2 separate regions of the Homo sapiens genome follow, and region 1 is reported to be linked to region 2. The links are microRNA targets in miRTarBase. Many come from high-throughput screens and were not tested one by one. Region 2 holds a microRNA gene; the other region holds the end of a gene's coding sequence.
Evidence for each region. Region 2 holds the annotated microRNA hsa-miR-371a-3p (AAGUGCCGCCAUCUUUUGAGUGU, at 3,647-3,669, opposite strand). A microRNA usually pairs through its seed, bases 2 to 8, with sites in the 3' UTR of a target mRNA and lowers its output. Matches are read on the target gene's strand: a 7mer-m8 pairs with bases 2 to 8, a 7mer-A1 pairs with bases 2 to 7 and ends in A, and an 8mer does both.

Region 1 (7,099 bases), not on the chromosome of region 2:
ATCAAGATGTCATCAGTGCCCCAGGAAACCCCTCATGCAACCAGTCATCCTGCTGTTCCCATAACAGCAAACTCTCTAGGATCCCACACCGTGACAGGTGGAACCATAACAACGAACTCTCCAGAAACCTCCAGTAGGACCAGTGGAGCCCCTGTTACCACGGCAGCTAGCTCTCTGGAGACCTCCAGAGGCACCTCTGGACCCCCTCTTACCATGGCAACTGTCTCTCTGGAGACTTCCAAAGGCACCTCTGGACCCCCTGTTACCATGGCAACTGACTCTCTGGAGACCTCCACTGGGACCACTGGACCCCCTGTTACCATGACAACTGGCTCTCTGGAGCCCTCCAGCGGGGCCAGTGGACCCCAGGTCTCTAGCGTAAAACTATCTACAATGATGTCTCCAACGACCTCCACCAACGCAAGCACTGTGCCCTTCCGGAACCCAGATGAGAACTCACGAGGCATGCTGCCAGTGGCTGTGCTTGTGGCCCTGCTGGCGGTCATAGTCCTCGTGGCTCTGCTCCTGCTGTGGCGCCGGCGGCAGAAGCGGCGGACTGGGGCCCTCGTGCTGAGCAGAGGCGGCAAGCGTAACGGGGTGGTGGACGCCTGGGCTGGGCCAGCCCAGGTCCCTGAGGAGGGGGCCGTGACAGTGACCGTGGGAGGGTCCGGGGGCGACAAGGGCTCTGGGTTCCCCGATGGGGAGGGGTCTAGCCGTCGGCCCACGCTCACCACTTTCTTTGGCAGACGGAAGTCTCGCCAGGGCTCCCTGGCGATGGAGGAGCTGAAGTCTGGGTCAGGCCCCAGCCTCAAAGGGGAGGAGGAGCCACTGGTGGCCAGTGAGGATGGGGCTGTGGACGCCCCAGCTCCTGATGAGCCCGAAGGGGGAGACGGGGCTGCCCCTTAAGTGTCGGTGAATAGTGAGGCTGGAGGCCGGAATCTCAGCCAGCCTCCAGCACCTTCCCTCTCACCATCCCACTGCCCCCTCGCTCCCATGTTTCCACCCGGCACCCTGATCCTCACCCGAATCTCCTTTTTTTTTTTCTTTTGAGACAGAGTTTCGCTTTGTCGCCCAGGCTGGAGTGCAATGCACGATCTCAGTTCACTGCAACCTCTGCCTCCTAAGTTCAGGCGATTCTCCTGCCTCAGCTTCCCGAGTAACTGAGATTACAGGCACCCACCACCATGCCCAGCTGCTTTTTTGTATTTTTGGTAGAGATGGGGTTTCACCATGTTGGCTAGGCTGGTCTCAAACTCCTGACCTCAGGTGATCTACCTGCCTCAGCCTCCCAAAGTGCTGAGATTACAGACATGAGCCTCCGCGCCTTGCCTCCTCACCCACCTCTTCACTCTGAATCCTCATGAGGCTTCTCAGCCCTGGATTTCCTGCTGCCATCCTCACCCAGCACCCACAACTAGCGCCTGGGCAGGGCAGGGCTGGCACCTCTCAACGTCTGTGGACTGAATGAATAAACCCTCCTCATCCACCCCTATTTATCTCCATCACCATTTCCCCCTCTTTCTTGTTCCTGGAAACGGCTGCTGAGTCTCCATCGGCCAAACTTATCTGCCCTGTGATTTCTTTGACAATTCTCCTTTTCCCCCAGAACCCACCCTGGGTTGACCAGAGTCTGGGAAGAAGGACAAGAGAACCCGGCAAACTCCCTCCTAGGATTAACTTTGTAAAGCACCCTTGCCCTGTAGCTGCAAGGGCTGTGGAACCTGGGCAGCCCGCAACCACCTTTAGCTCTGGGCCCCCCAGGCCAGCCTGGAGCATGGCTGGGTGGGGCCACCAGCCCATGCTCTCAGGCGGGCCTGTGATCTTTCCCAGGGCACATGGACTGTAGGCTGGCCCTGGCCCACACCACCACACTCTCCCCAGCCATGGACAGAGGCAGCCAGAGGCCTCACGGTTTCTCCTCCGAGTTTCTGGCTGGGTGTAGTTCTCAGAAACCCCAGTGCCTGCGTGTGTCCACTCGTGGGTGTGGTTTGTGTGCAAGAGCTGAGGATTTGGCGATGCTTGGGAGGGGTAGTTGTGGGTACAGACGGTGTGGGGGTGGGAAGTGGTGCAGAGACTGAAGAGGGTCAACCTGGGCATGGGGGACACAGGGACTGCTGAGAACGTGCGTGTCATCTTTGCTCTGATGGGGTGGACATAGCAGAAAATCTAACTCTGTCTGTAGCCCCATACAGAATGCCAGGGTGAGCACAGTGGCTGGTGCCTTTAATCCCAGCACTTTGGAAAGTTGAGGCAGGAGGATCGCTTGAGCCCAGGAGTTCGAGTCTGAAGTGAGCTGTGATTGCACCACTGCACTTCAGCCTGGGCAACAGAGTGAGCCCCTGTCTCAAAAAAGAAAAGAAAAAGAAAGCCAGGCTTCATGGAAAGATCGTATGTGTGACCCAAATATGAGTTCTTCAGCTCAGCCATGGTAATCCCTTCCTTGAAGTCTCCATTTCTGCAGTACACATGCATGTGCGCTCTCTCTCTCTCTCTCTCTCTCACACACACACACACACACACACACACACGCGCGCGCGCGCGCGCTCTCCTGCGAACAGAGGCAGGGGGAGAGGGGTTTGCCCTGGTCTCGGGGACTGGTCTGGCTGGCGCTTCCCCACTGCACGTTTCCAGGTTTAGTTTGTCTGTGTCTCCTCTTCCATCCCAGGGGCTGAGCCCCTTCCATCCTCCAAGAGGAACCAGTGAGAGTGAGTGAAGGAGGGGCCTGGAGCCAGGGACTTCCCCTGTGGGGCCTGGGTGGAGAGGGGAGAACTCAATGGTGCTGCCTTTGAGACCAGCCCAGGCTACAGCCCAGGAGCACACATGGGCCAGGGCAGTTGGTATTTCCCGAGGACAAAGAGGAAATTTTCAAAGAGGAAGTTGTTGAGTTAGAGCTTGCGGTGGCTGAGAGCAGACAGGTTGACCTGCAAAAAAAGACAGGGGAGGCATGTGAGTGTGACAGCCCTGCTCTGTGGCCTGGGCAGGAGATGGGGGAAAGGGTCAGGTGGGGGATGGGCTCGTGCAGTGGGAGAGGAGACGGAGGGAGGGAGCGGGAAGGGGCTTGCTTAGTGGGTGGGAAGAGCTGAGCTCGGATGGAACCAGCTTCTACCAGCCAGGCTGGGCACCCACTGGGCTGCATCTGGTGGCCTTTTCTGATTGCTATTTGGACTCACTGCAGCTGCAGAATGACAGAGGCCATGTCCAAAATCCCTTAGAGACACTGTTGTCTTAGAGTTGTTAAAATAAGAGCCCCCATATCAGGTTTAGAAAATACTGTCACCGAACGAACGTCGCTGTCCTCAGCTCCACCTCCCTTTCCTTTGACAGATATGGTTGTTTTCTAAGCCAGGACTGGTTTTAGTCAGGTCCTGGGCGAATCCTGAAAAAAAGAGGTAGTACGGGTAAGGAAGGCACCCAACAGGGCTTTCACAATCCAGAAAATATCAAAATATAAGTGTTAAAAGAGAGGCACAGGCCGGGTGCGGTGGCTCACGCCTGTAATCTCAGCACTTTGGGAGGCCAAGGTGGGCAGATCATGAGGTCAGGAGTTTGAGACCAGCCTGGCCAATATGATGAAACCCCGTTTCTACTAAAAATACAAAAGTTAGCCAGGCATGGTGGTGTGCTCCTGTAATCCCAGCTACTTAGGAGGCTGAGGCCAGAGAATTGCTTGAACCCTGGAGTCAGAGGTTGCAGTGAGCCGGGATCATGCCACTGTACTCCAGGCTGGGTGACAAAGTGAGACTGTCTCAAAAAATAAAAATAAATAAAATAAATAAAAGAGAGGCACAAACAGTGTTATGAATGCACCAAGGAAAATGGTGCATTCATAACTCTCAGGTGAAGCCTACCAAGCCATGCGTGTGTGCACATATGTGTGTACGTGTGCATGTGCGTGCGTGCATGTGCGTGCGTGCATGTGCCTGTGTGTGTATGTGTGCACATGTGTGTGCGCATGTGTGTGTGTGCGCGCATGTGTGTGTGCATGCATGTTCTCCCATGCATGTGTACTGTGGCAAGGGAGACTTTGAGGAAGAGATTCCAGTGGCTGAGCAGAAGGGCTCGCATTGCCCTGGCGAAAGGTTGGAAGGCTTCACCTGAGAGTGTGTCGTGGCCTTTGTCATATCCACTGCTTGATTCCTTTCTTTAAAAATTATTTTTATTGTTTTCTACATATGAGAACCACCACACCTGGCTAATTTTTGTATTTTTTGTAGAGATGGGGTTTCACCATGTTGTCCCGGCTGGTCTCAAACTCCCGGGCACAAGAGATCCACCTGCCTCAGCCTCCCAAAATGCTGGGACTATAGGCATGAGCCACTGCACCCAGCCACTGCTTCATTCCTGGTGGCTGCTGTGCCTGGCATGTTGCAGATCCTCCATGAATATGCATTTGAATGAATGAATGAATGAATGAATGAATGAATGGAGATGACGCCTCAGAGATTCTTTCTTTTGAGATGAGGTCTCATTCTGTCACCCAGACTAGAGGGCAGTGGTGCAATCACAGCTCACCACAGCCTCAACCTCCTGGGCCTCCCAAGTAGCTGCGATCACAGGTGTGCACCAACATGCCCAGCTAATTTTTTTTTTTAATTTTTAATTTGTACAGACAGGGTCTTGCTGTGTTGCCCAGGCTGGTCTCAAACTCCTGGGCTCAAGTGGTCCTCCCACCTAAGCTTCCCCAAATACTGGGATTATAGGTGTGAGCCACTGTGCCCAGGCTTGCCTCAGATATTTGAAGGCTGGGAAGGATTTTGCAAAGCTGGGAAAAGGAAAAGGCATTCCCAGCAGAGGGGATAGCAGGTGGAAATACATAATTAAAAAAAAAAAACGTGGAGCAGATCCAGCGCAGTGGCTCATGCCTGTAATCCCAGCACTTTGGGAGGCAGAGCAGGGAGGATTGCTTGAGTCTAGGAGTTCAAGACCAGCCTGGGTAACATAGAAAGACCCTGTCTCTACAAAAACACAAAAAATTAGCCAGGCGTGGTGGTGCATGCCTGTAGTACCAGCTACTTGAGAAGCTGAGGCAGGAGGACTGCTTGAAGCCAGGAGTTTGAGACCAGCCTGGGCAACATAGTGAGACCCCGTGTCTACAAAAAGTAAACATTTATATATATATTTTTTAAAGTGGAGCAGTTCAATATAGAGTCTTTTTTGAACAAACGTGAAATAGATGTCTTTTTTTTTTTTTTGAGATGGAGTTTTCACTCTTGTTACCCAGGCTGGAGTGCAATGGCGTGATCTTGGCTCACCAGAACCTCCGCCTCCTGGGTTCAAACAATTCTCCTGCCTCAGCCTCCCAGGTAGCTGGGATTACAGGCATGCACCACCAAACCCGGATAATTTTGTATTTTTAGTAGAGATGGGGTTTCACCATGTTGGTCAAGCTGGTCTTGAACTCCCGACCTCTGCTGATCCGTATGCCTCGGCCTCCCAAAGTGCTGGGATTACATGCGTGAGCCACCGTGCCCGACAATAGATGTCTTTTAATTTTCTGGAGGAAAAAGCAAAGCAAAAGAAGCAGTGGATATTTTAAGACTAAAAAGGAAAACAAAAAAAGGAGATAGAGCAGGCCAGACGTGGTGGCTCAACGTCTGTAATCCCAGCACTTTGGGAGGCCGAGGCAGGTGGATCACCTGAGGTCAGGAGTTCAAGACCAGCCTGACCAACATGGTGAAACCCTGTTTCAAAATACAAAAAATTAGCTGGGCGTGGTGGCGGGCACCTGTAATCCCAGCTACTTGGGAGGCTGAGGCAGGAGAATCCCTTGAACCCAGGAGGTGGAGGTTGCAGTGAGCCGAGATCACGCCATTGCACTCCAGCCTGGGCGACAAGTAAAAAACTCCATCTCAAAAAAAAAAAAGGAGATAGAGCAAGGAACAGTAAGAAAATAGTTGGGTGCAGTGGCTATGCGGTGGCACTATAGGAGGCTGAGGCGGGCAGATCACCTGAGGTCAGGAGTTGGAGACCAGCCTGGGCAACATAGACCCCTATCTCTACAAAAAATTTGAAATATGAAAAATTAGCCAGGTGTAGTGGTGTGCGCCTGTGGTACCAGCTACTCAAGAGGCGAAGGCAGGGAAGATTGCTTGAGCCCAGGAGTTTGAGGCTATAGTGAGCTGTGATCATGCCACTGCACTCCAGCCTGGGCAATAGTGTGAGACTCTGTCTCAAAAGAAAGAACATGGCCAGGCGTGGTGGCTCACACCTGTAATCCCAGCACTTTGGGAGGCCGAGGCAGTCAGATCATGAGGCCAGTTTGAAACCAGCCTGGCCAACATGGTGAAACCCTGTCTCTACTAAAAATACAAAAATTAGCCAGGCGTGGTGGCATGCCCCCGTAATCCCAGCTACTTGGGGGTCTGAGGCAGAAGAATTGCTTGAAACCGGGAGGCAGAGGTTGCAGTGAGCCGAGATCGTGTCATTGCACTCTAGTCTGGGCGACAGAGCAAGACTCCGTCTTGGAAAAAAATTTAAAAAAAGAAAATATAAAATATGGTATAAGATTAAATATATTAGTTATGAAAATAATTGTAAATGGCTTATTGAACTTATAGTCAGTAAAAATCATGTTTTTGAAAATTATGTAATGACTTTGGAAAATACCAGCAATATAATGTTAAGTGGGGAAAAAAGCAAGTTACTCCTCTGTAATACATATGATTTTAGTTTTGTAATAAAAATTCCCAACCATATATGCACTTATAGGGAAACAAAGGACCCATCGCAAATGTTTTCCATGCTGATCTCCAAAGTGGTGAGTTTATGTGTGATTTTTATTTTGTTTATGCTCTTCTGTATTTTCCGAATTTCATACAATAAATATCTGTTACTTTTACAATATGAAAAAATAGTGGTCAAAAAGGTGTTCAAGGGGGTGGCCTGGGGGTGTCTGGTTTGAGGAGAGTGGTAGGGGATGAGGCTGCAAGTGGAGGTTGGAGCCATGCTATGAAAAGTTCAAGAGTTTGAATTGAGTTCTGAGGTTTGTTTTTGTTTTTGTTTTTGTTTTTTGAGACGGAGTCTCACCCTGTCACCCAGGCTGGAGTGCAGTGGCACGGGTTCATGCCATTCTCCTGCCTCAGCCTCCTGAGTAGCTGGA
Region 2 (7,122 bases):
AAAAAATTATCTACTCTATGTACTACTATCTATCTACCCCAGAAGGGGTATTCATGCATAGACCCAGCTACTGAAGCTGAGGAAAAATGCTTGAGTCCAGGAAGTGGAGGCTACACCTAGCTCGACAGAACCGCTACATTCCAGCCTAGATGACATGATCGTCTACAAAAAAGAAACTAAAAATGGCCCACCATTACCACGTAAAACTGTGCCTTAAGCTTTCTGCAATCCCAGCACTTTGGGATAAGAGATTGTTTAGGTTTCAAGACCAGATTGGGCAACATAGTGGGATCCTATCTCTAAATTTTTTAAAAAGTTATTTACCCAATATTCTTTATATGTCTGCATTCAGTCCTGTTTCCACAGCTGCTTCTGAAGCAAACAGCCCTGCTTACAAACCACCCCCACCTACACCCTGCTGGCCATACAGGCTAAACCCTAAACAAGCTTAAGAAACTCAACTAAAGGCTGGGCGCAGTGGCTCAAACCTGTAATCTCAGAATTTTGGGAGGCCAAGGTGGGTGGATCACTTGAGGTCAGGAGTTTAGTGAGACCAGCCCGGCCAACATGGGGAAACGCCATCTGTACTAAAAATCCAAAAAAAATTAGCTGGGCATGGTGGTGGGTGCCTATAATACCAGCTACTCGGGAGGCTGAGGCAAAAGAATCGCTTGAACCTGGGAGGTGGAAGTTGCAGTGAGCCAAGATCATGCCATTGTACTCCAGTCTGGCGACAGAGCGAGACTCCATCTCTTTAAAAAAAAAAAAAAACAAAAAAAAAAACACAAAAACAAAAAACCCTCAACTAACAATCCCCAAGCTGCCCGTAGAAAAGATGACAGGAGGCCCAGGTAGGTCAAATATAAAGAGAAGTCTTACTGGTTACCGTGGCGGACTCCCCACCAGTGGTGGCGGTATTGGGACAGAGGCTACAACTGCTTTATGAATTGCGGGTACAAATAGCAAAACAAAACTCCCTTGAATTTGAGATCTTACTTCAGTTCAGATACTGTGGAGTGGGCAAAGCAGCCGCAAGGGTTTGGAACACCTACAGGGGATAGGAAAACTTACAGGGGATAGTGGCCAGCAGACCCGGAAACCAGTGATAGGGCAAACAGCAACTAAGAACCTACTGAAGGCCCCACGTGGTGGCTCACGCCTATAATCCCAGCACTTTGGGAGGCCGAGGTGGGTGGATCACCTGGGGTCAGGAGTTCCAGAGCAGCCTGGCCAACGTGGAGAAATCCCATCTCTAAAAAATGCAAAAAATTAGCCAGGCGTGGTGGCTTATGCCTGTAATCCCAGCTACTTGGGAGGCGGGGGCAGGAGAATCGCTTAAGCTGGCAGAGGTTGCAGTGAACCAAGATTGCGCCATTGCGCTCCAACCTGAGCGAGAGCACGAGACCATCTGAAGCAAAAAAACCTTCCAAATATGAACTTAGGCCTGGCACTGTGGCTCACACCCATCATCCCAGGGAGGCCACCCAGGGCAAGACAGTAAAGCCCCATCTCTACTAAAGGAGGGATGTTTGATTCCCCCTAAGTTTCAGACCAAGCTGGCCAATGTATGAGACCCCAATTTCTACTAAACATTAGTGGAGCATGGCGGGGACACTCCTGTGGTGCCAGCTACTAAGGGTGGGGTGAGGGGGGGCTTATATGGGAAGATCTTTTGATCTAGGGAGCTCAGGCCTGCAGGGAGCTGTGATGGTGCCACCACACTTCAGCCTGGGTGGTTTTTATTTTTTGAGACAGTTATCGCTGTCACCCAGGCTGGAGTGCAGTGGCACAACCTCGGCTGGCTGCAAGCTCCACCTCCCGGGTTCATGCCCTTTCTGCCTCAGCCTGTGACTACAGGCACCCACCGCCATGCCCGGCTAATGTTTTTGTATTTTTTAGTAGAGATGTGGTTTCACCGTGTGAGCCAGGATGGTCTTGATCTGACCTCATGATCAGCCTGCGTCGGCCTCGGCAGTGCTGCCACTGTGCCCGGCCTTACTTTTTAAACTTGTTTGAAGTTTAAAGAGCAGAACTCTCAAAGAGCATAACTCTAAGTTCTAGCAGGGGTAGAAGGGAAGCACAAAATACTGACAAGTATTTTTAGGCAATGTACTTGGGTCATAGAAGAAGGTTCAGTAACGCCAGACATGAGGCTCATGCCTGTAATCCCAGCACTTGTGGGTGGCAGAGGAACCCAATAGACCAGAAACACATGATGTTGTTCACATTTTATTAAAAAAAAAAGTTAGGAAAAGTGAGACTGTGGCATTGTCCGTGTAGCAGGGTGGAAGCACTCCAGCCCATGCTCTGGCCAAACCCACTTCAAGCCTTACATGCATGCTGCCTACCAAATTCAGGAACAGGACCCCAAATTCCCTTTAAGGCCAACCAGATTCCCCCGACACCCCATCAAGCTTTTCCTGCCCTGTTCATCTGCAGGTGAACCCCGTATCCTGCCCACCCCAGAATATGCCAATTTTTATTATCTAAAATGGAGCATACAGACTGGTGCCCCGCAGAGAAGCCCGGGAACTCCAGGTCATAGCTGAAGCTGCAGTCAGACCCGCAGGCTCCCTTGAAGCAGGATGGTTCGTGATGCCCTACTCAAACAGGGACACCCCAAAATCGAAGCACTTCCCAGTACAGACAAAAAGGAAAGCGCCCCCATTTTGAGTATCCCAGTATGAGCTCCTCGCGAGGATCTGCCATCACTGTGACTTTCTTGCCTACAAGAGGTTGGCCTCCAATCATCCAAGCACATGTTAAATGTCAGCAATAAACTTGCTTGCTATGGGGGAAGAGGAAAGTTACATATCAATTATAACACCAACAGCAAAAAGCATTCCTTTCTTTGTGCATACAGCCCCTTGGTCACAGCTGCTGTTTTTTTTTTTTTTTTTCTTTGAGAATGAGTCTTGCTCTGTCGCCCAGGCTGGAGTGCGGTGGCGCGATCTCGGCTCACTGCAAACTCCGCCTCCCGGGTTCACGCCATTCTCCTGCCTCAGCCTCCCAAGTAGCTGGGACTACAGGCGCCCGCCACCACGCCCGGCTCATTTTTTGTATTTTTAGTAGAGACGGGGTTTCACCGTGTTAGCCAGGATGGTCTCGATCTCCTGACCTCGTGATCCGCCTGCCTCGGCCTCCCAACGTGCTGGGATTACAGGTGTGAGCCGCCGCGCCCGGCGCAGGCGCACAGCCGCCCTCTGAACCTTCTCTTCCTTTCACCATCTAACCCAGATTCCCTTAGTTGTGTCAGGTGAGAGCCCAGGAGGCCCCCTTCCCTTCCCCAGGTTTTCCGGAGCCATTACAGCCAGACGCTGTAAGGGACCTGTACCCAAGACAGTTTCCGGCTGGGAATCGAAACCACAGGCTCTTTAGTTCCTGCAGAAGACCGAGCTCCACGGCATCCGTTGATATGGGCGTCACCGGTGACGCTCAAATGTCGCAGCACTTTCCACTTGGACATCAGAATAGTGCTCCACATTTGAGGCCCACAGGGTGAGCAGCTCCATCTGCAAGAGCCCCGGCCAAGAAATTTATATCACGAGGAAACGGCCATAGGCAGGGTCTAGGGCCATCCTGCTACCCGCCCCCTCACCCAATCAAAATGGTATCTTCTCCGCAGGTTGAGTCTTCTCAAGCGGTAACACTCAAAAGATGGCGGCACTTTCACCAGAGAGCAGAAAGTGCCCCCACAGTTTGAGTGCCACAGGCTGAGGGGATGCGGCAAGGCGGCGATCGCAAGTGGAAGCACTTACCCATCAGAAGAGGCTTTTAAGCAAGGAGGTGGAGAGTAGCCCTTGATGAGCTGTTGAAGGTCTACAAAGCACGAATTTAACGACCCTTTCTTAAAAAGTAAAAAACAAGGCTTTCCACGTATAGATATTCAAAGCACTCCCCCGCCCATAGCCTCCAGATGCAAGCCATGAGGACTGAGTACAATGCAAGTAGGAAGGAACACGTGTGAGGGACAGTGGGGCCTTCGTCCTTAAGACTGAAAAAAAATCACAGAAATAGAACAAAAGTACAGCCCGGCTGGGCGGAGTGGCTCAAGCCTGTAGTCCCAGCTACTCGGAAGGCTACGGTGGTAGGATTGCTCTTGAGCCCAGGAGTTCGAGACCAGCTTGGATAACATAGAAAACCCCATCTCTCCTAAAAAAAAAAAAAAAAAAGCAGAAAAACGCACATGGGAATGGTGGTGCGCGCCTGTGGTCCCAGCTACTGGAGGCTAAAAGGGTGAGTCCCAGGAGGTCGAGGCTGCAAGGCGCCATCATCCTACCTGTGCACTTCATCCTGGGCGACAGTGAGATCCTGACCCTAAAAAATAAAGTAAAATGAAAGAAAATAAAATAACATAGCAATACTCACAGAGGCCAATGATACGTCCACACCTCAGGTCTGCCAGAAAGAACAAGGTTCACTGCAGCTGCGTTCTTATATAGGGTGAGAGCCCACTCAACTTTGATAGGATTAAAGCCCACCCCTTCCCACCCTCTCATTCCCCCTGGTCTCCGCCCCAAGCCACCCTGCTCCCTTTGATCCTAGCTTGCCTTAGTCAGACACACCTTCATAAACTTTTTCAAACACTGATTCAAATAGAAATTAGGTGATCCCTATTACTAGTAACGCCAACATGTATTCGTTATAAATACATTGGAAAACACAGAGAAATAACCAGAAGAAAATCATTCCACCAGTCATCCACTCAACAAATATTTAAATATAGTATTTTGGCAGAGCGCAGTGGCTCACACCTGTAATCCCAGCACTTTGGGAGGCCGAGGCGGACGATCACTTGAGGCCGGGAGTTCGAGACTAGCCTGGGCAACATGGCGAAACCCCGTCTCTACCAAAAAAATACAAAAATTACCCACGCATGGTGGTGTGCACCTGTAATCTCAGCTGCTTGGGAGGCTGAGGCAAGAGAATTGCTTGAACCCGGGAGGCAGAGGTTGCAGTGAGCCAAGATTGTGCCACTGCATTCCAGCCTGGGGACAGAGTGAGACCGTGTCTCAAAAAATAAATAAATAGGCTGGGCACAGTGGCTCATGCCTATAATGCCAGAACTTCAGGAGGCCGAGGCAGGCAGATCACGAGGTCAAGCGATCGAGACCATCCTAGCCAACATGGTCTCTACTAAAAATACAAAAATTAGCTCGGCGTGGTGGTGGATACCTGTAGTCCCAGCTCCTCGGGAGGCTGAGGCAGGGGAATTGCTTGAACCCAGGAGGCAGAGGTTGCAGTGAGCCAAGATCGCCCCACTGCACTCCAGCCTGGGTGACAGAGTGAGACTCCATCTCAAAAATAATAATAATAAATTTTAAAAAAATAAAAAAGCTGGGTGCGGTGTGGCTCACACCTATAATCCCTGCTACTCAGGGGGCTGAGGTGGGAGAATCCTTTGAACCCTGGAGGTGGAGGTTGCGGTGAGCCGAGATCACACCACTGCACTCCATTCTGGGCGACAGAGTGAGACTTAGTCTCAAAAAAAAAAAGAGAGGGAGAAAAGAAAAAAACAGTGCGGCAGTGAACATTTTTGAGAGCAACTTTGATAAAAAAGCGGAAACATTTCTGATTTTATTTAATGAAACCACTAGAGTTCCTTTGACCTTGAGGCATAGAGAGGAACTCAAAAAGGTGGGTGTTGGAGAGGTGAGGAGGGGCTTGAAAATGGTAAGTGCTCAAAATAATGAATGACTCAAGGAAGGGGAAGACTTGGGGCCCCAGGAGGCCAGGGTTTCCTTCCCATTTGTAATCCTAGCCAGCTGCGGGAGTACGTGCTCAACCTTTCTGGTTAAACCTAGTTCCTTCATCAATGAAAATGTACAGCATTTGCTGCAAAGGATGGCGAGAGATAGAAATGAGACAGCAAATAGCATGTTTGGCGAGAATCGCTAGAACCCAGGAGGCAGAGGTTGCAGTGAGCTCACATCACGCCACTGCACTCCAGCCTGGGTGATAGAGCCAGACTCCATCTCAAAAAAAAAAAAATTCTTGCTTTGATCTTTGTCAAGGTTGCGGGAGGTCAGTGCTTATGTCCTTACAGCTCAGCCATCCAGATTCCTATCTAACCTACTCACTCCTCTCACACTGCACCTGGATTTTCTGCTATTTGTGAACCACCTGGATGATCTCTCGGGTATTTCCTAGAACTCGGCTTTTTCTCATCACCTCATTTTGTCTTTGCAAATTTCTCCTTTAAGGGCGGCTTTCTTCTCCTGCCCTTGGGCCAGCACAGCGAGTTCATTGCTGACTTTTTTTTTTTTTTTTTGAGACGGAGTCTCCCTCAGCCACCCGGGCTGGAGTGCAGTGGCTCGATCTCGGCTCACCACAACCTTCGCCTCCCAGGTTCAAGTGATTCTCCTGCCTCAGCCTCCCGAATAGCTGAAATTACAGGCATGTGCCACCACGCCGGCTAATTTTGTATTTTTAGTAGAGACGGGGTTTCTCCATGTTGGTCAGGCTGTTCTCAAACTCTCAAACTCAGGTGATCTGCCCGCCTCGGCCTCCCAAAGTGCTGGGAATACAGGCGTGAGCCACCGCACCCGGCCAACGTTTGTATTTTTGAATATAAAAAATGTTATTAGTGCAATTGAATTTAATCAACATTCAACAAAGAGTATAGTCAAAGACGATTTTTAAGTGCATTTGAAAGAGGACTGCAGGCAGTGGCTCAAGCCTGTAATCTCAGCAATTTGGAAAGCTGAGGTGGGAGGATCTCTTCAGCCCATGAGTTCAAGGCTGCAGTGAGGCCTGATCCTGCCACTGAACTCCAGCCCAGGTGACAGAGCAAGACCCCATCCCTGGAAAGAAAGAAAAAAGAAAAGAAAAAAGATCCGCTGGGCACGGTGGCTCACACCTGTAATCTCAGCACTTTGGGAGGCCGAGGTGGGCGGATCACCTGAGGTCGGGAGTTCAAGACCAGCCTGGCCAACATGGAGAAACTCCGTCTCTACTAAAAATACAAAATTAGCCGGGGTGGTGGTGCATGCTACTCAGGAGGTTGAGGCAGGAGAATCGCTTGAACCCGGGAGGCGGAGGTTGTGGTGAGCCGAGATCGCGCCATTGCACTCTAGCCTGGGCAACAAGAGCAAAACTCTGTCTCAAAAAAAAAAAAAAACA

Region 1: miRTarBase lists SPN as a target of hsa-miR-371a-3p. Seed matches in the 3' UTR shown: 7mer-A1 at 5,917-5,923.

Annotation. Positions count from the first base shown.
Region 1 is chr16:29,664,026-29,671,124 of GRCh38, forward strand. It overlaps SPN (sialophorin), which reads left to right. Exons shown (of 2, transcript NM_003123.6): 2 at 1-6,851. The coding sequence ends at 906. Among named protein-coding and RNA genes, the nearest start is that of SPN, 4.3 kb to the left of the region's middle. RefSeq lists a silencer at 207-326.
Region 2 is chr19:53,784,263-53,791,384 of GRCh38, reverse strand. MIR371A (microRNA 371a) reads right to left here and starts at 3,710; the gene lies at 3,644-3,710. It overlaps MIR371B (microRNA 371b), which reads left to right and starts at 3,643; the gene lies at 3,643-3,708. MIR372 (microRNA 372) reads right to left here and starts at 3,495; the gene lies at 3,429-3,495. MIR373 (microRNA 373) reads right to left here and starts at 2,680; the gene lies at 2,612-2,680. It also overlaps LOC124904767.